Linked DNA regions of Homo sapiens. The protein of the gene in region 2 purifies or fractionates together with the protein of the main gene of each other region. This does not show direct contact. Each region holds a gene or a part of one and is shown on either strand. Other genes may lie near its edges.

Region 1 (6,700 bases), on a different chromosome or scaffold from region 2:
TGGGCTGCACCGGCCACCCTGCCCTCGGCTGTAGCTTGGGCCTTGGGGCCTCTGAGGTTGCCCAGAGCTGGGCACAGGCCAGGGGGGTCAGGAGCCAGAGGAAGTCCCGTGAGAGCTCTGGGCCTTGAGGGACGAGCTGCTGCCCTCGTCTGGCTGCCTTCTCAGGGTCCCCAGGGAGGCAGGTGTGGGGCAGCGGGGCCGTTCCAGAACCTTCCTTCTCTCCCCAGAACCTCACGGCTTCACAGCCCAACTGCCAATGGAACTCTAGCCCTCAGCTCTCCCACTCCCGCAGGGCCCCCCAACTGCCTGCTTCTGGATGGATCTGAGGGGCCCCACTCCCGAGAGGGCGCAGACACGTGTCCTCTGGCAAAGGGGACTTCTTCAGCTGCCGAGGGAGGGGAAGGAGGCCCTGACGAGGCCTGGGCACGCCGGGAGGGACGCTGGGAGCAGGGAGGCCGAGAGCCCCAGGACACCCCGGACACAGCCAGGCCCACGTCCGAGCGGAGCCCGAGGCCTGGGCAGCGCCATCGGGGTGAGGGGCACAGCCGGGCTCCACGGGAACCCATCTTGCTCAGCAGCCCCATTAAAAGGCAAGAAGCAGCGATGTGAATCCTAACCGCTGATTTTATTTAACCGAATATATCCAAAATATGATCACTTCCAGGTCCTCAGTACACAACCACCACGAGGGAAACCCAGACCTAGGTTTCCGGCGCCGACTCTGAGGCCCGGGAGTTTTCTTCTTGCGTCACCCCAGCGTGGGCACCCCGGCCCGCCCCCCTCCACCTGGAGCGCCTCTGCCTTGCCCCCAGACCCACCAGCCAGGAGCCAGAGGAGGGAGGCTGAGGGGCGGGGACGAGGAAGAGGATGTGGCTGGTGCCCTGGGTGGCCGCAGCCGCTGTCTTTCACGCCTTTCTCACTCCACACGGTGCCCCGACCCCAGGGTCCCGAAAGTCCCAGGCTGTTGGACGTGGTCTGGGTGGGGTGGGAGGGACGACGCTGGCAAAGGCGGGCTGAGAGGATTTCTTTATTTCGCGTTCAGACCCAACACACTCGGACACCTTGGGGCCCTGTGAGGGCTAAGCAGGGTGGTGGCGTCAGCTCCCGGGGAGGCCCCACTCCCTGGGGAGGAAATACACGGCAGGGGGCCGCACCCAGCCCCCCACGGAGGGACCCGTGTTGCTCTAACAGGGACACTGAAGTTGCCTCTGCCGCCCCGTGAGGGGCCTGTGGCGGCCCCAGACCCAGCCCAGCCAGGCCAGAGGAGCCTCCCAGGGGCCCTCAGGTGGTGAGGTGGGGGCTTCCCGGCCCCGGTGCCCACCGGCCCTTCTAGCTGCCTGTGCTGGGCCAGGTGTCCTCTGAGGCCGGCAGGAGTCTGGCCCCCGCTGCACCTGCGCTTGGTGGCTGGCAGGGGCGGGGTAGGGAGGTCACCCTCGAGGCCGGGGTCCCCATGTGCTAGGGGAAGACCTGCCTTCCCAGCCAGTGTCCACAGGGCAGCAATTCCACGCTCTGAGGCTCAGGGACCAAGGCAGGGCTGGGTGTGGGGCCCAGACTCCAAGCTCTGGGGGTTGGGGGACCAAGGCAGGGCTGGGCATGGGGCTCAGGGCCTTGGAGGTTTTTCTCAGCTCTCAACATCACAGCACAGGGCCCGTGAGTCACCCCAGTCCTCTGGGCCTGTGTACCCAAGCCGGATGCAGGCCGGGGAGTGCACGTGGGGCTCCTCTGTGGCGCCAGTGTGAAGCTGCTCTCCGGGGCGGTCGCAGCCTCCAAACCCTGGTGCTACGAGTCCGTGCCTCAGGCCCAGGGACCACAGGCCGTCTGCTCATGGCTGAAAATGAGGCCAAGCAGCTCCCAAGTCTCGAAGACTCCACTGGTGTGGAGGCAGAGGGGCCCTTCCAGGGCAGGGCAGCCCTCGGGGCAGCAGCAGGGGCAAGGGCTCTGTCTCACGCACACGGGCACAGGCACGCAGGTGCCGGCCCTGCCGCTGGCTCCCAAGAGGCCGATAGCCCGGTAGGGAGGTCACACACACACAGCTGATCCCTGGAGGTAAAGAAACCTAGACGAGGAGAGTGGAGGCTGGGCCTGCGCAAGGAGGCGCCAAGGGGGGAGACCACTGCCCACAACAGGGTCAGTCCCGCGAGAGGGTCAGTTCCGCGCCTGCCGCCTGCCCGCCCAGCTGCAGGGTGCTCGCCATTGCCACTGCTGGGGAGCATGGTTTGGGCCGAGAAACCAGTGACTCCGGGAGGAAATGCAGAAGGGCCGGGGTGCCAGCGCCAGTGCCCATTATGGGCAGGGCTGGGCCTCACGTCTGGGCCAGCGAGAGCTCCTCCAAGCCTCTCTTTCCCAGGCGGTACCTGGCGAGGTCCTTCCTGGTCACCAACCCGACAACCTGCAGGACAAGTCCAGGCCACAGTGACACACGGGTCGGCTCCCGCCTGCCTGTGGAGCTCCCTGCCTTGTGTGTGGCTGGGGCAGCACAGGCAGGGGGCCCTGGGGGCTTCAGCACAGCCCCCGAGCTGAGCACGGGGCTGGGGAGGGGTGCAGCCATGGGGCATGGGCCGACTCGGTGCTGGGTCCTGTGCTTCCGTGTCCCCTGCCGGGAGCTGAGAGTAAGCACGGGCAGGAGGCAGAGGGGAGCCCTGCACGGCATGCCTGCACCCCCACCGCCCCCGCTCACCTGATTGCGGTTGTCCACCACCACCAGGTGCCGCAGGCCCAGGGCCCGGAACAGCTTGAACACCCGTGGGAGCGACGCCTCCTGCAGCAGGGGCACAGCTGTCAGTGCCCGCCCACACAGCAGAGGCAGGCGGGACCCTCACCCAAGCTGGCTCCCTGCACCCCCCACCACGGCGTCCAGGCACGTCCTGAGCCCCCACGCCCGTCTGGCCAGCCCCCTCAGCCCCTTGACTTCAGCTCTAAAGCCTGCCAGGCCCTTCACAGGAGACAGAGTCACCGAGTCCTCTCCGCTGTGGCCCCCCCCGGCTGCCCCTCCCCGAGGCTCTGGACCCCACCCCCTGCTGTTCAGTCCCAGGCCCCACGCCCATGCCCATGCCCTGCACATGCCTGGGGCACCGTGTAGGGGGAGGGGTTCATGAACTCGGAGAGGTCCATGGTGCACTCCCGCTCGTCCTGGGACACGTGGATGGACTGGATGGGTGGGAAGCGCGGGTAGGCGTCTCGGAAGTCCTTCAGCCTCAGGCGCCGCTGTACCAGGCCCAGGTTGGACCGCTCCACAAACACCTGCGGGCGGCAGAGCCCTGTGTCAGGCACCCAGGCAGCACCCCCGGGGCCCCCACCCGCCCAATGGCCCGGAGCCTGGCACGCACCTTGTGCTTTAGGAGAACGATGAGCTGGGAGCGCAGGATCAGGCCCTGGAGCCGGGCAGGCTGCAAGACAGGCCCGCGGTCAGGGCCACGGGCCCGAGGGTGGGAGGCTGCGCTGGAATGCTGTGTCGGGCCCCGCTCTGACCCTGTTCCGGCCAGATTTCCCATCTGGGCATGGGCCCCGTGTCGGTGGCTACCTGCTCACACCAGCCTCGCCATGGCATCCCACACGCACAATGCCACGGGACCCAAGGATCGGCGACAGGGTAGCGGGGCCTGACCGCGCACAGCAGAGAGCCAAGGGCCCAGGGATGGTGGCTTTGCTGCAGGGCAGATGCAGCCCCACTGGGTCCCAATAAAAACCAACCTCCAAACACCCAGTGTCCACGTCTAAAAGACACACAGCAGTGGCCGAGCTGTGTGTCCTGTCAGGGCCTCCTGACAAAGTCACGGCCCCCAGTGCCACGGCTCTCAGCCCAGCCTGGGTGCCAACCCCAAGACCCTGCCAGGCCGCAGCCCCCCCCACCAGCCTCAGCGTCCACACAGCCCTCCATGGCTGCACACTCAGCTTCCGGCACTCCTGGAACTGCCAGTGCACCCAAACGTGCAGCTTCCCCATCCTGCAAACCTTGCCGTGTGCTTCCCACCAATGGACTCGACAGAGGTCACATAGGCAGGACCCTGTCTATGGGGTGCCCGGTACCTGGGTGTCATCGGCATGCTCCACCACGGGGAAGCCGTTGTGATTGGACGCCGTGTCGCTCAGCACGTCCACAATGACGCCGACCTTCTCACGCCGCCTCAGGCAGGTCACTGGTGTGCTCATCACCTCCCTGCCGGAGGAGCCCGGCCACACATGCCCGTCACACGCCACCAACTCCCACAGTTACCTCTGCGGGCTGGTGAGGTGTGAAGCCGCTGGACAGGAAACGCGGGGCTGCCTGGAGCCCGCAAGCCGTGCACCCTGCCCCTGTGCAACAAGAGGCCGCTGGACACCCTCCCCACCCACAGGTGTCCTGGGCGCTGTACCTGGCAGTGAGTGAGTGTGAGGTGACCGGGGCCTCCCAGTGCAGGAAGGGCACACTCTGCAGCTGAATGTGCATGTCGTACAGGCCCTGCGGGCGGGGCGGGAACACAGGGCTTGAGGAGTCCACACCCACCCCTGGAGCCCCGAGCCTACCCCTGGGAGCCCAGAGGCCGCCCCCAGAAACCCTGAGCCTACCCCCCGGGACCGGCTGTTTGGAGGCTCACAGGGGCCCCTCCCCTATGGCAGCACCCACGCTCTCAGGGTGAGGCTTCGAGGCCCTGGCGCACCTCAATGAAGACGTCGCCCACGATCTTGGCGGTCATGAGCACCAGCATGATGGGGAAGCCGTAGGTCACGTTGCTGGTGGCCTCCATCATGATGACGGTCAGGCTCAGTGTCATCCGCACAATCCCGCCTGCGGGAGCCATCATGAACCCCAGCACGTCCACCCTCCTGGCTCAGGGTCACGTGGCCACTGCCTTCTCTGCAGCACCCATCCCATCCACCTGCTCCCAGACCCTAGCCCCGCAAGGACAGCCATGGCCCCCTCCAGACCCCGTGGAGCTCCCCACCCATCGGGCAAGAGCTGGGACATACCCAGCTGGGCAGCAGCTCCCATCAGGGCGTATTTGCCGGGGTCCGCCCAGATCTGTGGGAGGTGACACGGAGGAGGTGTCAGTGTGGTGGCAGGCCCAAACCCACCAAGATACACAGACGGAGGAGGCCCTGCCCAGGCCCAGCAGCCCCACAGCCAGGAACAAACCTCGTGGCCGCGTACATACACACAGAACAACCTAGCACAGTACACCCTGCTGCGGAGGCTGCATCCTTGGCCTGAACCAGGCGCTCAGCACCCGAGCAACAGGGGAGTGGCAGGCATGGAGGATGCAGAGGGCACAGTCACCACGCAGCAGCCCAGGCCAACTAGGGAGCACCGTCCAGCATGAGGAGTGAAACCCCGGCACACACGACACAGAGAGCCCCGGGAACATCAGGCTGGGCCACAGAACCCAGGCATGGAGGCTGCAGAAAGCGGGGCACGAGGGTCGGTGGGCACAGGGTTTCCATTCTGGGATGACGGAACATTCTAGAAGTGGTAGTGACGGCCGCACTGCCTCGTGAACGTGAGAAACGCCGCTGAACTGCCCTCTTTAAAACGATGAGTTTTACGGTATTTGAATCATGTTTCAATTTTAAAAACCAAACCAAACCCTTGTGCGGAGGGAGATGGGCAGAGCACACGGGCCTGGGGAGCAGGAGTGGGCGCTTCCTGCCGGGGATGAGAAGCATGGCCGGGGGCTTCCTGCCAGGGCCTCTTACAGGTTTTCAGTCTTATTTAAGCGACTGAAATGAGAAACAGAAGACACATAAGAGAACCCAGTCCCAGCAGAGGCAGGCAGAGAAGGAAGGCCTGCGGGGGCTGAGGTCTGGAGGGCAGTGTATGCCGCTCTGGCCCCCGGCCTCACAGAGAGCAGCCCTGGCCGGACATCCACCCCATGGAGTCTAGAAACAGCTCTGCAGCAGCCCACAATCACCTCTGCTTTTCATCACATTCTCAAGAATAAGGACACGAGCCTCCGCCCCCTACCTTCGCCTGGTCCAGACTCCACACATGGGCTGCGCTGCCACAGTACACGCTGCCACCACAGCAGGACAACGCCCACGGCCCGTGAACCACGCGAGGACAACGCCCACGGCCCGTGAACCACGTGAGGTGCGACACTTTTGTCCTGCCCTGGGACTTCTGCTCCGGCCCGCGATGCCGCAAGACCTGGCTCAGCTGCAGGGCCCCACAGCCTCCCCTCCGGCCCCACTCACCGCCGCCCCCGTGAGGTAGGACAGGGAGATCCCAAAGAGCCGGCCCCAGGCAGCCCCGATGAGCAGGGACGGGATGAAGACCCCGGCAGACACCGTGAGCCCGTAGGTCCAGCAGGCCAGGAAGAAGTAGACCAGCGTGAACAGGCCGAGGGTCAGGGGGTTGTAGGAGCCTAGGAGAGAAGAGGGGCTGACGGGGCCTCCACGACTCCCGCCTCCGCAGGACTGCCCTGCCCCGCTGCCCAGTCTCGGGCCTCACAGTCACCTTCCAGGAGCCCAGCAACCTGAGCTCCCGAGCCCAGCGGTCCCCAGAAGGCTCCCTGTTCTCAGCCTCCCTGGGAAGCAGAAAGGCTAAAAGGATCCCATGGGGAGGCCACAGGGGAAGAGGCTCTGCGGGGCCCTGATGCCAGCAGAAGCAGGAGCCGCGTCCAGCGGGGCGGCCCAGCTGGGTCTAGCAGCGCCAGGTCTACACTCCATGGGTGTGCACCGTGGTGCAGCTCGCAGCCTGGCTCCGGGAAGAGGGTGCCCCCCACAG
Region 2 (7,369 bases):
TTATTTAATTTTAACTAGTTTCAATAGCCACACATAGCTAGTGGCTCCTGCGCTGGACTATGCAGATATGGAGAATTTTCTCTATGATAACAAAAATAAGACAATAGTGAGTGGGGAGGGTTTAGGAAAGCTAGAAAGTGTCTGCCATCTAAAGACAGTGGCTGCTGCTGAGTGTCAGCAGATTGTGGCTACAGGGGGAAGCAAATGTGTTTCCATTACCTGTTGCTACATAATAAACTGCCCCAGAATTTAGTGGCTTAAAAGAACAACCATGTTATTTGTTTACAATTCTGCTATCTGGGTTGAGGCTCAGCTGTGTGGTTCTTCTGCTGGTCTTCACATGGCTGCATTCAGTAGGCAGGTCATCTGGAATGCTGAGAATCCCCTCTCCACATAGTTGCAGACTCCTCCTCAACATATGATGGAAGGCAGGTGGACGTCTAATATGATGGCTCCGGACACCCCAGTCATGAAAGTGGAAGGTGTCAGACTTTAAGCCTGTGCCCAGACCAGGCCCAGAGACACTTTTGATGTATTCTCTTGGTCAAAACAGGTCACAGGACAGGCCCTGTGGTGTGATCTCTGAGGAATACATAAAGGCTTGAATACTATGGGGCATGGTTCAAAGTGATGGGATCATACTAATGTAACAGGTAATCACAAGTCCAGCATTGCCAGAGCTCACATTTATTTTCCCCAAATAGCAAGGCATCCAAATTTATATGTGAAACCTTTCAAACTGTAACTATTAGTTCACTTTCTTTTGGTACCAGCTTTATGGAGACATATTCGCATACCATATAATTCACTTATATAAACTGTAGAATTCAGTGGTTTTTTAGTACATTCACAGAGATGTGCACCAATCTTCCCCTCCCCTCCCCCAGTATCAGGAAACTGTACTAATCTGCATTGTCTGTATGGATTTGCCTATTGCCTATTCTGGCCATTGCATATAAATGTGATCTTGCCAGATGTGGTCTTGGCTCACTTTTTTGTTTTTTTAAACTTAGCTTTAGTTTTCTCAAATGAGGCAATGCAATCGGATTAGTTTACTATCATTCAAAAATGGCAGAGTGTATTGAGCACTGTTTGGACACTGGGTTATCACATGATTCAAATCATTTGCTTTGCTTTCATTCCATGTTTAATGTTAATTTTACTCTAGACTTTGCCTGAGCGTCAAACCTATCAGTCTTAGAAAAAATACTCAAAGATTCTGTCTCCTCTACCAACTGCAAAGTGGAAGCAGCACTGGACTCATAATTAGATATAAGCCTTTCATTGAAGTCTGAGTTCTATTGCTTTCTTTTTTATTTTTTATTTTGAGACAGTTTCGCTCTATCACCCAGGCTGGAGTGCAGTGGCGTGATCTCGGCTCACTGCAACTCCACCTCCCAGGCTCAAGCGATTCTCCTGCCTGAGCCTCTTGAGTAGCTGGGATTACAGGTGCGCAACACTACCGCCTGGCTAATTTTTGTAATTTTAGTAGAGATGGGGTTTCACCATGTTGGCCCGGCTGGTCTTTAACTCCTGACTTCAAGTGATCTGCCTGCCTTGGCCTCCCAAAGTGCTGAGATTACAGGCATGAGCCACTGTGCCACTGCACTCCAGCCTGGGTTACAAGAGCGAAACTCCATCTCAAAAAGAAAAAAAAAAAATGGCACATATGTGTGTGTGTGTGTCTATATGTACATGTTCAAGGACATATATTAGTATCCAATAATAAGTTAAAATACTAATATATGCCCTTGAACATGTATAGACACATATATATACACATGTATACATGCACACATATACACACACTTATATACACACATATATACATATATACACACAGATATACATATGTGTATACACACACATATATGAGAACATAAGGTGACTTGCATCATTTACATTCAACAAATGGTCAGTCATTCACTCATCCAGTTCAATCTAATACCTATTTATCATTGGCAAGTGCTGTGCCAGCCTCTAGAACTACAATCGTGGTTAAAACAAAGATCCCGGCCATCCCAGCTTTGAAGACAGGCATTCAATAGTTGCACAAAATAAGTATAAATTATAACCGGTGCTGTGGGAAAAAAGTATAGGGAGTTCCAAGGCCATAAAAACGGGGAGCTAACCTAGTGTGGCAGGGTTAGGAAAGTGATATTTGAGCTGACAGCTGGAAATGACAAGCATCAACAGACAGGTGGCAAAGGTCCAATTCGGGCATTCAATTATTCTCTCCTTAGACATTGATTAAATATATATTGCCTGCTGTGTGGCAGCACTGTGCTGACCATCAGTCTATCTGTCGGACATTTAAAAAAGTTTTTTAAAAAGAGAATGCATGCAACTTCAAGACTTACTGGCAGGATTACTTCTCCAGATGACCTACTGGCAAGCCAACTTCCCAGCTACTGGCTCCACCCTCATCTTAGCTGGAGGGAATGATGAAGGAAGAGGAGGTGGTCTTACACTAATTGAATCATTGCAGCAGCTGTGGATCACGATTCCTTTCTTTCTTGCCTTTTTTTTTTTTTTTTTTTGAGACAGGGTCTCACTATGTCACCCAGGCTGGAGTGCAGTGATGCCCTCACTGCTGAATGCAGCCTCTACCTCCCGGGCTCAAGCAATCCTCTTGCCTCAGCCTCCCAAAGTGCTGAGATTATAGGCGTGAGCCATCATCCCAGGCCGGGGTCTCAATTTCTTTTTTTTTTGTCTTTTTTTTTTTTTTTGAGACGAAGTCTCACTCTGTCACCAGGCCGGAATGCAGTGGCACAATCTCGGCTCACTGCAACCTCTGCCTCCCTGGTTCAAGCGATTCTCCTGCCTCAGCCTCCTGAGTAGCTGGGACTACAGGCGCCTGCCACCACGCCCAGCTAATTTTTGTATTTTTAGTAGAGACGGGGTTTCACCATGTTGGCCAGGATGGTATCGATCTCTTGACCTCGTGATCCGTCCGCCTCGGCCTCCCAAAGTGCTGGGATTGTAGACGTGAGCCACCATCCCAGGCCGGGGTCTCAATTTCTGAAGCCATGCTGAGGGCCATTTTTGGGCGGCACTCTTTCACTCCACTATGTGCCAGGCGCTGTCCCAGAGGCAGGGGGCACAGTGAGGAACAAAACACAAGAGAATCCTGCCATCAGGAAGCTTACACCTGTTAACACATGCAGGTTGGGGAGATAAACGAATAAATTAAAAAATGTAACAGGTAATAAGGAGAAAAGAGTAACATGATGGAATGGGATACTCGGGCCTTGGACAGGCTAGTGAAAAAAATGTTTCTCTGAAGTCAACACTTCGGTGGAAGGTTGAAGGATGAGAAGCCAGCCATGCAACCATAGATGGTGTAGGGGCAGTCTCTGGGAAAGCCTGAAACAGGCTGGAGCTTGCCTTGTTCTAAGCCAGTGAGTCTCAATGGGGGCGTATTTGCCCCCAGGAGTCCTTCGGCAAAGTCTAGAAGACATTTTCGGTTGTTAACCTGAGGTGCTAGGGGGTGGAACTGGCCCCTAGTGGATAGCAGAGGCCAAAGCTGCTGCTGAACATCGTGCAACGCACAGGACAGTCCCGTCGCTCAAAGTGCCAACGATGCACGGGTTGAGAAACCGGGTCCTCTCCAGGACTGAAGCCCAGGGCAGGGAGCACGGGGGCAGCCTGAGCAAACCCGCCTGGAGAGCAGCCGCCGTCTCAGTGTGAGTTTTGGCTGCCTACTGGGCCCCACCGAAGCCCGAAGAGGGCCAGGCTCCGGCTTCTTTGTTTAAACTCCCTTAGTCCGACTGCCTGCAGTGGCTCATGCACGTAATTCCAACACTATGGGAGGCTGAGACGTGAGGAACGCTTGATGCCAGGAGTTCGAGACCAACCTGAGCAACAAAGCGAGACCCCATTTCAAAAAACTGTTTAAAAATTAGCCACAGGCAGCGGCGAGCGCCTGCGGTCCCAGCTACCCGGGAGGCTGAGGTGGGAGGGCCGCTTGATCCTGGGAAGCTGAGGCTGCAGTGAGGCGTAACCGCATGACTGCGCTCCAGCCTGGGCGAGAGAGGGAAACCCTGTCTCAAAAAGGCAAACAAAGGCTCTCGGCCGCCAAGCTGCGGAATCCCAAGCTCCCCAAGACACGCAGTGATCCAGAATACCGGCCACCTCCTCGCCTAGTGCCCGGGGCGGGGCCGGAAGTTCCGGCGAGTGGGGCGTTGAGCAGCGGCGAGCCCGCCCAATAGGGACATCTCAGGCCCGGCAGTCTCGCGAGAAGGGCGGCGGCCCTGGGTTCTGGGACAGGTGACCCGGCGGCGGGGCGAGGCAGCTGGCGGCGTCGCATGGAGGGCTCTGGGGGCGGTGCGGGCGAGCGGGCGCCGCTGCTGGGCGCGCGGCGGGCGGCGGCGGCCGCGGCGGCGGCTGGGGCGTTCGCGGGCCGGCGCGCGGCGTGCGGGGCCGTGCTGCTGACGGAGCTGCTGGAGCGCGCCGCTTTCTACGGCATCACGTCCAACCTGGTGCTATTCCTGAACGGGGCGCCGTTCTGCTGGGAGGGCGCGCAGGCCAGCGAGGCGCTGCTGCTCTTCATGGGCCTCACCTACCTGGGCTCGCCGTTCGGAGGCTGGCTGGCCGACGCGCGGCTGGGCCGGGCGCGCGCCATCCTGCTGAGCCTGGCGCTCTACCTGCTGGGCATGCTGGCCTTCCCGCTGCTGGCCGCGCCCGCCACGCGAGCCGCGCTCTGCGGTTCCGCGCGCCTGCTCAACTGCACGGCGCCTGGTCCCGACGCCGCCGCCCGCTGCTGCTCACCGGCCACCTTCGCGGGGCTGGTGCTGGTGGGCCTGGGCGTGGCCACCGTCAAGGCCAACATCACGCCCTTCGGCGCCGACCAGGTGAGCCGCGCCCCCGCGCGCTGTCCCTGTCCCTGTCCAGCCCCTGCCCAGCCCCAGCCTCTTCCCCTGCCCCAGTCCCTGCCTCTGACCGCGGAGGGAGCCCCTTGCCCCGGGGGGCTTCTGTCTAGTGCCGAGGAATCCCGCCAGCAGGTGGGCCAAGACTGGAGGTACCGGTGTGATGGGTGCTGGAAGGGGTTTGCCTGGGGCGGGGTGAGGTCTACACACACAGTGATGGCCACAGTGGCTTTAAAGAAAAGAGAGGCCGGGCGCGGTGGCTCACGCCTGTAATTCCAGCACTTTGGGAGGCCGAGGCGGGAGGATCTCTTGAGCCCAGGACTTTGAGACCAGGTTGGGCAACACAGTGAGACCTCATCTCTACCAAAATTTAAAAATTTGCCCTCCGTGGAGGCGCACACCTGTAGTCCTAGCAGAGAAAGGAGGATTCCTTGAGCCTACGAGTTTCGGAGGCTGCAGTGAGCTAGGGTCACACCAGTGCACTCTAGCTTGGGTAACAGAGTGAGACCCCACCTCAAAAAAATAAATAAATAAAATTTAAAAAATACGCTGAGCGCAGTGGCTCACGCCTGTAATCCCAACACTTTGGGAGGCCGAGGTGGGTGGATCACCTAAGGTCAGGAGTTCGAGACCAGCCTGACCAGCCTGGCTAAAAATACAAAAATTAGCCGAGCGTGGTGGCGGGCACCTGTTCTCTCAGCTAGTCGGGAGGCTGAGGCAGGAGAATCGCTTGCACCCGGGAGGCAGAGGTGCGATGAGCCGAGATCGCGCCACTCCACTCCTCCAGCCTGAGCGACAGAGCGAGACTCTGTCTCCAAATAAAAATAAATAAATAAATAAAAAATAAATGAACGGGACCCTTCTATGTTCAGGCCCTGTAAGTTCAGACCAGAAGGCTAGGAAAGAGCAGTTGTTTGAGGAGCTTTCCAGACATGGGGATTCGCAGGTGCAGGGCCCTGGGCCAGGAAGCTGAGGGAAGGGGAAGCCCCCGTTGTTGCCTTAGCTTCCTTTACAAAGAAGTGGGAAAACACTCATATTGCGTCTTCGTGGCTTTAAAGGAGTTACGGGCTAGGTTGGGTCGGAAAGCTCAGATGAAAATGAGTTTGAATCAAGTTAGCATCAAGCTGCTCCCCTGCAACTGTAACTGCCAAGAAGTGAGGGAGGAACCACTGCAGCTCTTCAGGAGGGGCAAGGACGTGGCCACCAAGTATTATATGCAGAATAGGCCGCCTTTAAGAGCAATAGCAAAGTCAGATCGTTTCAGAAAATATAAAAAAAAGTGGGAAGTGAGGTGGAAGGCTGGGGCCGGATCATGTGAGGAGTGTTAAAGCGTTGGGGATACAGTCGAGAGCTTTACTGGGTTCCAGCAGGGAGTGATTTGTGCAGAGCAGGCACTACAGCTGGGGTAGCAGGTCAGGTCTGCTTCTTATTTTCTGAGGATTCACAAGCTAAGAATGGTTCTTAATATTTTCTTTCTTTCTTTTTTTTTTTTTTTTTTGAGGCGGAGTCTCGCTCTGTTGCCAGGTTGGAGTGCAGTGGCGCGATCTCAGCTCACTGCAACCTTCACCTCCTGAGTTCAAGCGATTCTCCTGCCTCGGCCTCCTGAGTAGTTGAGACTACACGTGCACGCCACTGTGCCCAGCTAACTTTTGTATTTCTAGTAGAGACGGGGTTTCACCGTGTTGGCCAGGATGGTCTTGATCTCTTGACCTTGTGATCTGCCTGCCTCGGCCTCCCAAAGTGCTGGGGTTACAGGCATGAGCCACGGCGCCCAGCTAGTTCTTACATTTTTAAGTGGTCGGAAACGGGATCATTTGTGACCAGTGAAAATTTTATGAAAATCAAATTTCAATCTCCATAAATAAAGCGTTATTGGAACATAGCCCCACCTGTTTCTGCAACACAGCCACTACACTGGGGCTGCTTTCACTAAGCAGTGGCAGAATTGAGTAACTGTGATGGAGACGAGATGTCTCATAGAACTCAAAATGTGAACTGCCTGCCCCTTCACAGAAGTGTGCGGATGCTTGTAGAGAATGGGTTGTGTAGGAAGTGGTGACATTAGGGACATGAGGTGGGAGTCTCTCCTAACTAGAGTGGAGGCAGTGGAGGTGGGTGAAGTGGATGGATGGAGTTCAGCTATGGAAGTAGAATGGGCAGGAAGTACTGGCAGGTTGTCTCCCTGTTTGTGTTCCTATGTAGGAATACCTGAGGCTCAGTCATCTATAATGGAAAGATGTTTCTTTGGTTTAGGGTTCTGCAGGCTGTACAAGAAGCAGGGCGCCAGCATCTGCACTGCTGAGGGCCTTGTGAATGGGAGCCAGCTGTGTAGAGATCACATGCACTAGAGGAAGTGAGAGAGGGGAGGGAGGTGCCAGGCTTGTAAACGACCTCTCTCATAGGAGAGTTCACTCCTGTGACAGCCCCAAGCCTTTCTTCAGGGATCCGTCCCCATGACCCAAACACTAGGCCCCACGAGAAGCACTGGGGATCACATTTCT
Region 3 (7,106 bases), on a different chromosome or scaffold from region 2:
ACATTTCCAAAACAAATAGGCCTACATTTCACCTTATCTACTACTGTTGTGAAGGCATGCATTTTAGGAATACAAAACACACACTTTAGGAAATGTGTATTCTATTCAAGAAGTATTTACCTTGACTTTTTTTCTCAGTAAAGTTTATAATATTCTGCCCCTACATGTAAATTAAAGTGCAGGCTGCCTCTAAATAATGCAACTGTTTGCCAAATAAAGTGAACAAATAAGTTATACCATACTTTCAACGTATTTACGCCTGACCAAGACTTCCCCATATATATTCAGCTCATTATCTTCAATTTGTTCCATTATGCACTTCACAGTTAGGGATGTAATCCAATCCCCACAAAGGCTTATGCTCTAAAACATAAACTTAAGCCATCTTTAGATGGCTTAAACACCCTAGGAAAATGTTGCTGTTTAAAATAGTTATTTCTGACAAAAATAAAATCAATCAGTAAGAAGACATTTTTAGAAAGGCTCTTTCAGTAACAAATCAAATTTTACATACCTGTAATATCAAGAACTGTAGGAAATTCAGTGTAGTATCTATGAACTGTTTCAAGAAGTTGAGCACCATGGCCTTGACCTTGAAATGGAGTCAAAATCAGCATCTGACTACAGTAAAGAAATTATTTTAAAATTAAAATATCATAACATGACCAGTTTAAAACCTGCAGATCACTATAGTATTACAAACACTTTAAAGTTTGTGTGATCTTTTTTTCAATCCACCTTTGAGATACCCAAAAATTATCAAGATACTCAAAATTAGTTTAATCTTCTACACTGTTTCAAAGGGAACAATGAAATAAATCAGTACATAGCCCATGAATAATAGTGATTTTTTTTTTAAACAAATCAACACTATTATAACAAGTATTGGAAACTTCAGCAGTTCCTTCTTCTGAAATAAAAGACAAGGCACGTGTTATACTGCCAATTACCTTACACGTGGCCGGGTTTTGTCTGGGTACACATAGTAATTATAGACTGTCATGTAGCCTACGGTCGCAAAGAGCGTAGCTCCATCCTTATTATACTTCTCAAATCTGCAGATAAAACAGAAAGCCAAGCAGGTCAATTACAGTCGCGCTCCCATGCAGTGTCCATTTTCTTTTCCATTCTCTGACTGAATTTTCAGTGTCAGCAAGCTACTCTGTGAGGGCCCAATGGGTACACCTGCTATGTTCTGAATGTACAATTCACTTAATTGGTGTGCAGCAACTTGGATAAATCAGACCTCTTTACATCACTTCAGTGCACTTGCCTATTATAAAGATGAATAGGTGGCAAGTAAAAGAAAACACAGGCAAAGCTCATTTTACTGTTTAAGCCTACATTCAGGGCCCTAACGGACAACAGCATTTAATTCAGCTCTATTCTCAAGGTCTCCCAAAGCATAATGAAGGAAAACTCAAGCCTCATAAACAATAGTTTTTCTTTCCTGGGAAAAATATCATTATACTGTCCCAATAATTGGGCTGCCACAATTAAAATGCTGGCTTTGTGGAGGTAATAAGGTCTACTGTTGCTTTAGAACTGTACTTACACTAGAAAGTAGTGCCATCTTTCATCATCCACGTCAATAAAGCTAGCAGTTTCAATAAACCACATCAAAAAGGTCTGAAGCCTTTCATGATATTCTCGAAAGCCTCTACATGTCATGTCAGCCTAGGGAAAAAGCCAGGAAAAGTCAGGTGAAACTCATCACAAAGGTAAGTGAAAGTCCGCAGAACACAAAATTATCCTGTGGGAAAATGTTTAGAAGTCTCAGATTAAGATGTGAACATAGATACAGACATACACACAAAATAGATCTTGGTTTATAATGCTGATTAAAACTTGTTTACTGCAGTTAGAATAAATCACTGACAACAAAACTACATACAGGTTTCAGGCAAATAGAACTTTACTCAATAAATATTTAGATTTATCTTTACCTTATATATCTGAAAGGTAAAGTTTTCTCCTCCTGTTGGACTGAGAACTGAGTAGGTATGAAGTAAGGTTCCGAATGGCTTGAAATCAACTTCCTTTTCCAGTAAAGAAAGGAAATCATTCGTGTTTGTGCAAAATCCAGGTGGAATGATTTGTCTAATTTTGCCCTCAACATCATCTGCCTAAAGAATAAAGGATATAAAAAATTAATAACAAATTCGACTTTAAGTTGAATATGGTTTATTTCTTTAAAACTGACAAAACCAACACAAATTACAAAACTTTGGTTGAAAACTAAAGAAGTAAACACACAGCGAATTGGAAAAGGATGAGCTTCCTGTGCACAAACTGCATCACACAAAACTGAGATGAGCATAATATAAAAGTAAATAAGAGAAGGCAGGTGACCTGATACCAAGTACAATAATAAGGGCAATGCTATGGACATTTCCATTATGCAGAAACAGCTGACTATACCCCTTCATGACAGTCTGAACTGGCCAAGGCAAAAGGTTGCTTATTATTTTATATGTGTCAAAGAAATCATATTATCCAAGACATGAAAAGATCACCAGCAGTGGTGAGATGAGACTAGAGTCTGACCAAATGAATAGCAATCTCACAACTAGATGGGTCACAATTCCCTCATATGCCAAACTCAAACTAAGATGATAACTTAAAAATATACATATTTAGGAAATAACATAAATTATATGAATGGATATATCATTCTTTTATCCTTAGAATGTGACACAATTCTTACAGACCTGGATTTGTGACAGTAAAAAAGAGACAAGACTGGACAACAAAACTAAACTCGGAGATTAAAATTACCCTTGTTAAACAACCTCTATCAATGTTATCAGCTGAGCAGACTTCATAATCCTTTTCAAAATCCCAAAAGACCACTTGATTGAATACATTTACTACTTCTCTTTAACCATGAATATTTGATGAAGTCTTACAATAAAGTATTGCTGCTTCTCACCAGGCAATAAAACTTAATGAATTGGTCTCAACTTAACAAAACCTTATCCCTCAATACAGTCCCTAAAAGCCTGACATTACATTCAACAAAATGAGCTTGTATTCTATTCAAACTTTTTCCTGAACAATGAGGCCAGGTTTTTACTTAATGGAGTTTGCCGTGAGTTCAGCTGTAATGTTTGTATTGTATCTATTTCCACAAGGACTGACACAAGAACACTTTGTGTTAACTTACTAAGCAGCTCTTTCATACCGTTTACATGCATGATGGGTATTAGTTCTAAACCAAGACCCTTGCTACTTAGCATTCAAAACAGGGAAATTAAGATGCTTAGGACAAAATACACTACAAAAGGCTAATACAACATGCTACTAATTCCTATCCTTTCAACCATCTTTTAACTAAGTAGAAGCAATGCACCTGCAGATGAATAGCACTTTATTATGATTCAGTTACATTTCAGGATAGAGAACCAGTGATGACGTTTATCACAAACAAGTTTTATTTTCAATGCTCTGGTACCACCAACATTTATATATAATTTGTTTATAGGTATAAAAAAGACCTATTATTGAAAATATAGCTCTTCAGCATTTTGCCCAACAGTTTATTTCTAATATGTACATCAGTCCTTGCAACTCATTCACACTCTAGATCAAATAAACTGCATTTCATAGGACAGTTTTTGCTTATTTTTAAAGTACTATTTGATAAATATTTTTCCTTGAAATTGCTAACATGAAGAGGCCATCGTAAGCATATTTTATAGTATCAGTACAATTTCAACAGCTATCAAGGAAACTGTCATAATGAGGGATAGCTGTAATAGATGTGTTGTGTAGCAATTAAAATCCAAAGTAGTGATGAGTAAAACAGTATAGTATGTTAGTTAAGGTTTTTAAAAAGCCAAGAAAAACTACTTTTAAAAAGGGATTTATAATCTATCAGTTTAAAAATCACTTTAAGACTTTCATAGCATGTATAATTTTAACTTTTAAAAACTTTCCTTATGTCCTGTCTTCTCAAGAAGGCATTGCAAATCACTTTACATATCTTGTATCAAATCTACTTCAAAGACTTCTCAGAAACTCTAAGTTTCAAGTAGCACTTTTGGTGGCGGGCAGAGCAACCAGAAGGTTTGAGCCCAACAAAGTTGAAAAAGGGCTTTCAGCCTTCAAAGGATGTCTATTTCCTGTAATAAATATCTTCAAATAAAATAGTTTGCTTTGTGTAAGTTTACACATTAAGAATTTTTACGGGGCAAAGGGCAATTTTAAAGCAAGGAATCTTTATATAATTATATAAATATATATTTATAAATAGTTATGTATATAAATATGTATCTGATATACTTACATAAAATATACAACTTAAAACCAAATAGTTCTTCAACCTAGAATTTACAACTTCGCTTCACTAAAGGGAAAATGTCTGCATTTCTCTATTAAATGGATTCTGCTTTAAGAAAAAAAAAAATCCTGACTACCATGTCTTAGAGATCTGTACTCTTTTCTCAAATATATAATTTAGTTTAATTTAAAATATTCGTCTTTCAGATTGGATTACTGATCAGATAATAAAATCAGCACAAGAGCAAGACCTCATTTAATCATTGTTAATTGAATAGAGTTAAAAATGAACAGAAACTTTTTAATTCCAATGTTTGTGGCTAAAAGTTTAGAATCTATTTCTGAAGATCACTGAAAAATTCCCTGTATTCCAGAGCATTATTCTAAACTTCAACTAAAATTATACAGAAATATAGAAAGGGTAAGAAATTCAGCTGACTAGACACACCAGGGAACTAGAATTTCAAAAAAATTTTTAAAAAGACACCAGGCTGGGCATGGTGGCTCACACCTATAATCCCAGCACTTTGGGAGGCCAAAATACGCACATCACCTGAAGTCAGGAGTTTGAGACCAGCCTGGCCAACATGGTGAAACCCTGTCTCTAATAAAAATACAAAAGTAGCTGGGCGTGGTGGTGTGCACCTGTAATCCCAGCTACTTGGGAGGCTGAGGCAGGAGAATCACTTGAACTTGGGAGGCGGAGGTTGCAGTGAGCCAAGACTGCGCCACTGCACTCCAGCCTGGGTGACAGGGTGAGACTCCGTCTCAAAAAAAGAAACCAGAATACAACCTGATATATTTAATTAACAAAGACATCTCTTACAAATGGTTTCCTAACGCTTGGTAATTTATTTTTAAAAAGGAAAGTGCAAAAGTATTCTAGTTAGATATTCTGGTAGGTGGGTCATTATGAAATATTTTTAGATTGTATACTATTTAACTATGGTCATTTCAAGTTCCAGTGTTCTGTACTTTATTACACATGAACATGTTCATATGGAGCAATTTTTGCATTTCCTCATTATTGAATAAAGCGATATGCCTGATAATTAGTAATCTATTTTTTTAATGTTTATATTTGTATTTATACACATTTGAAAACCCAATAACCTCTCTAACATCTTATCTTAAGCAGCACCATTTGTCTAAATTTGTCTAGTTATTTTTGAGATTGAAATTAAAGGCACGTTAAGTAGGTGGTAACATGTTGTTCTTTACTTGGCTAAAGTGGTACATAGACTTAACTATAATTCTAAGACTACCTAAAATATGCTAAAAAAAAAAAAAACAAGCAAAAGAAATTCTGTATCTACTTAATGTTCTCAATCTCATGTTCTCTGATAATATTTAAGCTTTAACTACAGAATGTATTGTTGAGAAATTAAAAGTGTGAACTTTTTCACTAATGGAAAAACAAAGGTCATATTATGTTTATTTACACTGCATTAGTATTTTGCTACTTGAACTAAACAAGATAAACTTGTCAATATATACTTTTAAAGCTCTTTATGATATTTCATAAAAAGTATTACTTATCAAGAACACCATCACAATTTGAAATTTTACTAGTCTACCAAAGATTTTTTCGAAATTTCTGGAAGTATGTAGGATTTTCCTAGAAAGAGGCTAAACACTCCATAAAATTTTTAAAATCTGCTCTCATATCCTCTCAAATTCAATCCAATTAGTGGGACACTAGGATAAAATAACTGAAATTCACAGTTAATACAAACTTTATCCATCTATTTCAACTTCCTGTACCAAACTTTTCCCAGAAATGCTAGCAATTAGCAAGACAACAATCTTAGTTACCCACTACTTCACTAAAAGGCAATGAAATTACCCCCAAGAAAAGGCAGGAGGTTTTTGTTTTTAAGACAAGAGTCTTGCTCTGTCACCTAGGCTGGAATGTAGTAGTGTAACCATAGCTTACTGCAGCCTTGACCTCCTGGGCTCAAGAGATCCTTCTGTCTCAGCCTTCCAAGTAGCTGGGACTACAGGAGCATGCCATCATGCCTAGCTTTTGTTTTCGTTTTTTGAGACAGAGTCTTGCTCTGTCACCCAAGCTGGAGTACAGTGGCGCGAACTCGGCTTCCTGCAACCTCCACTTCCCGAGTTCAAGTGATTCTCCTGCCTCACCCTCCTGAGTAGCTAGGACCACAAGCACGCACCACAACACCTGGCTAATTTTTGCACTTTTGGTAGAGATGAGGTTTCACCATGTTGGCCAGGCTAGTCTCAAACTCCTGACCTCAAGTGACCTGTCCACCTCGGCCTCCCAAAGCGCTGGGATTACAGGTTTGAGCCACCACGTTCAGCATTTTTTTTTTTTAATAGGCAGGGTCTTATTATGTTACCAAGGCTGGTCTCAAATTCCTGGCCTCAAATGATCCTCCTGAGTCAGCCTACAGAGTAGCTGGCATTACAAGCACAGAGCAGGAGGTGTTAATAAAAGCAAAGGTCAAGGACAACCAGATGAAAAAATCATCAGTGTCTGAATAATCAAGTTTATTGTATTGTAAAATTCAGAATTATGTTTCCTTTAAAGATGGTGGCTAGTAGAGATTTTATAGGCATCTTAATTGTGACTGAAGAATTTTAGGTGCAACTAGAGCATTCAGCTTGGAAAAGTAAAAGAATGGATGATTAAAAATTAATGTAATGACATAATCCTAATAAGAAATAACTTCTAAGCAGATGTTATGGCTGCTGACCATCTATGCAGTATGATCTGCAAAGCCCTAATATATTAGACTCAAACCTAACATCCAAAATAAAATTTTTTTATTGTTTCCACTTAAACCTATTTCTTCTATAGTTTT

The links.
Region 1: the proteins of SLC15A4 (region 2) and CLCN7 purify together in Homo sapiens (affinity purification with mass spectrometry; 2 studies listed by BioGRID and IntAct, with this or other methods). This does not show direct contact.
Region 3: the proteins of SLC15A4 (region 2) and HAT1 purify together in Homo sapiens (affinity purification with mass spectrometry; 2 studies listed by BioGRID and IntAct, with this or other methods). This does not show direct contact.

Annotation. Positions count from the first base shown.
Region 1 is NC_000016.10:1,444,329-1,451,028, forward strand, and holds the end of CLCN7 (H(+)/Cl(-) exchange transporter 7), read right to left. Parts: intron 6,339-6,700; coding exon 6,169-6,338; intron 5,000-6,168; coding exon 4,948-4,999; intron 4,766-4,947; coding exon 4,638-4,765; intron 4,439-4,637; coding exon 4,353-4,438; intron 4,157-4,352; coding exon 4,027-4,156; intron 3,387-4,026; coding exon 3,327-3,386; intron 3,241-3,326; coding exon 3,064-3,240; intron 2,759-3,063; coding exon 2,678-2,758; intron 2,390-2,677; coding exon 2,303-2,389; 3' UTR 607-2,302; downstream 1-606. UniProt on the Homo sapiens protein: Slowly voltage-gated channel mediating the exchange of chloride ions against protons. Functions as antiporter and contributes to the acidification of the lysosome lumen and may be involved in maintaining lysosomal pH.
Region 2 is NC_000012.12:128,820,882-128,828,250, reverse strand, and holds the start of SLC15A4 (solute carrier family 15 member 4), read left to right. Parts: upstream 1-4,292; 5' UTR 4,293-4,307; coding exon 4,308-4,853; coding exon of another isoform or gene 4,854-5,003; intron 5,004-7,369. UniProt on the Homo sapiens protein: Proton-coupled amino-acid transporter that mediates the transmembrane transport of L-histidine and some di- and tripeptides from inside the lysosome to the cytosol, and plays a key role in innate immune response.
Region 3 is NC_000002.12:171,960,358-171,967,463, reverse strand, and holds part of HAT1 (histone acetyltransferase type B catalytic subunit), read right to left. Parts: intron 2,127-7,106; coding exon 1,947-2,126; intron 1,678-1,946; coding exon 1,556-1,677; intron 1,056-1,555; coding exon 951-1,055; intron 622-950; coding exon 515-621; intron 1-514. UniProt on the Homo sapiens protein: Histone acetyltransferase that plays a role in different biological processes including cell cycle progression, glucose metabolism, histone production or DNA damage repair. Coordinates histone production and acetylation via H4 promoter binding.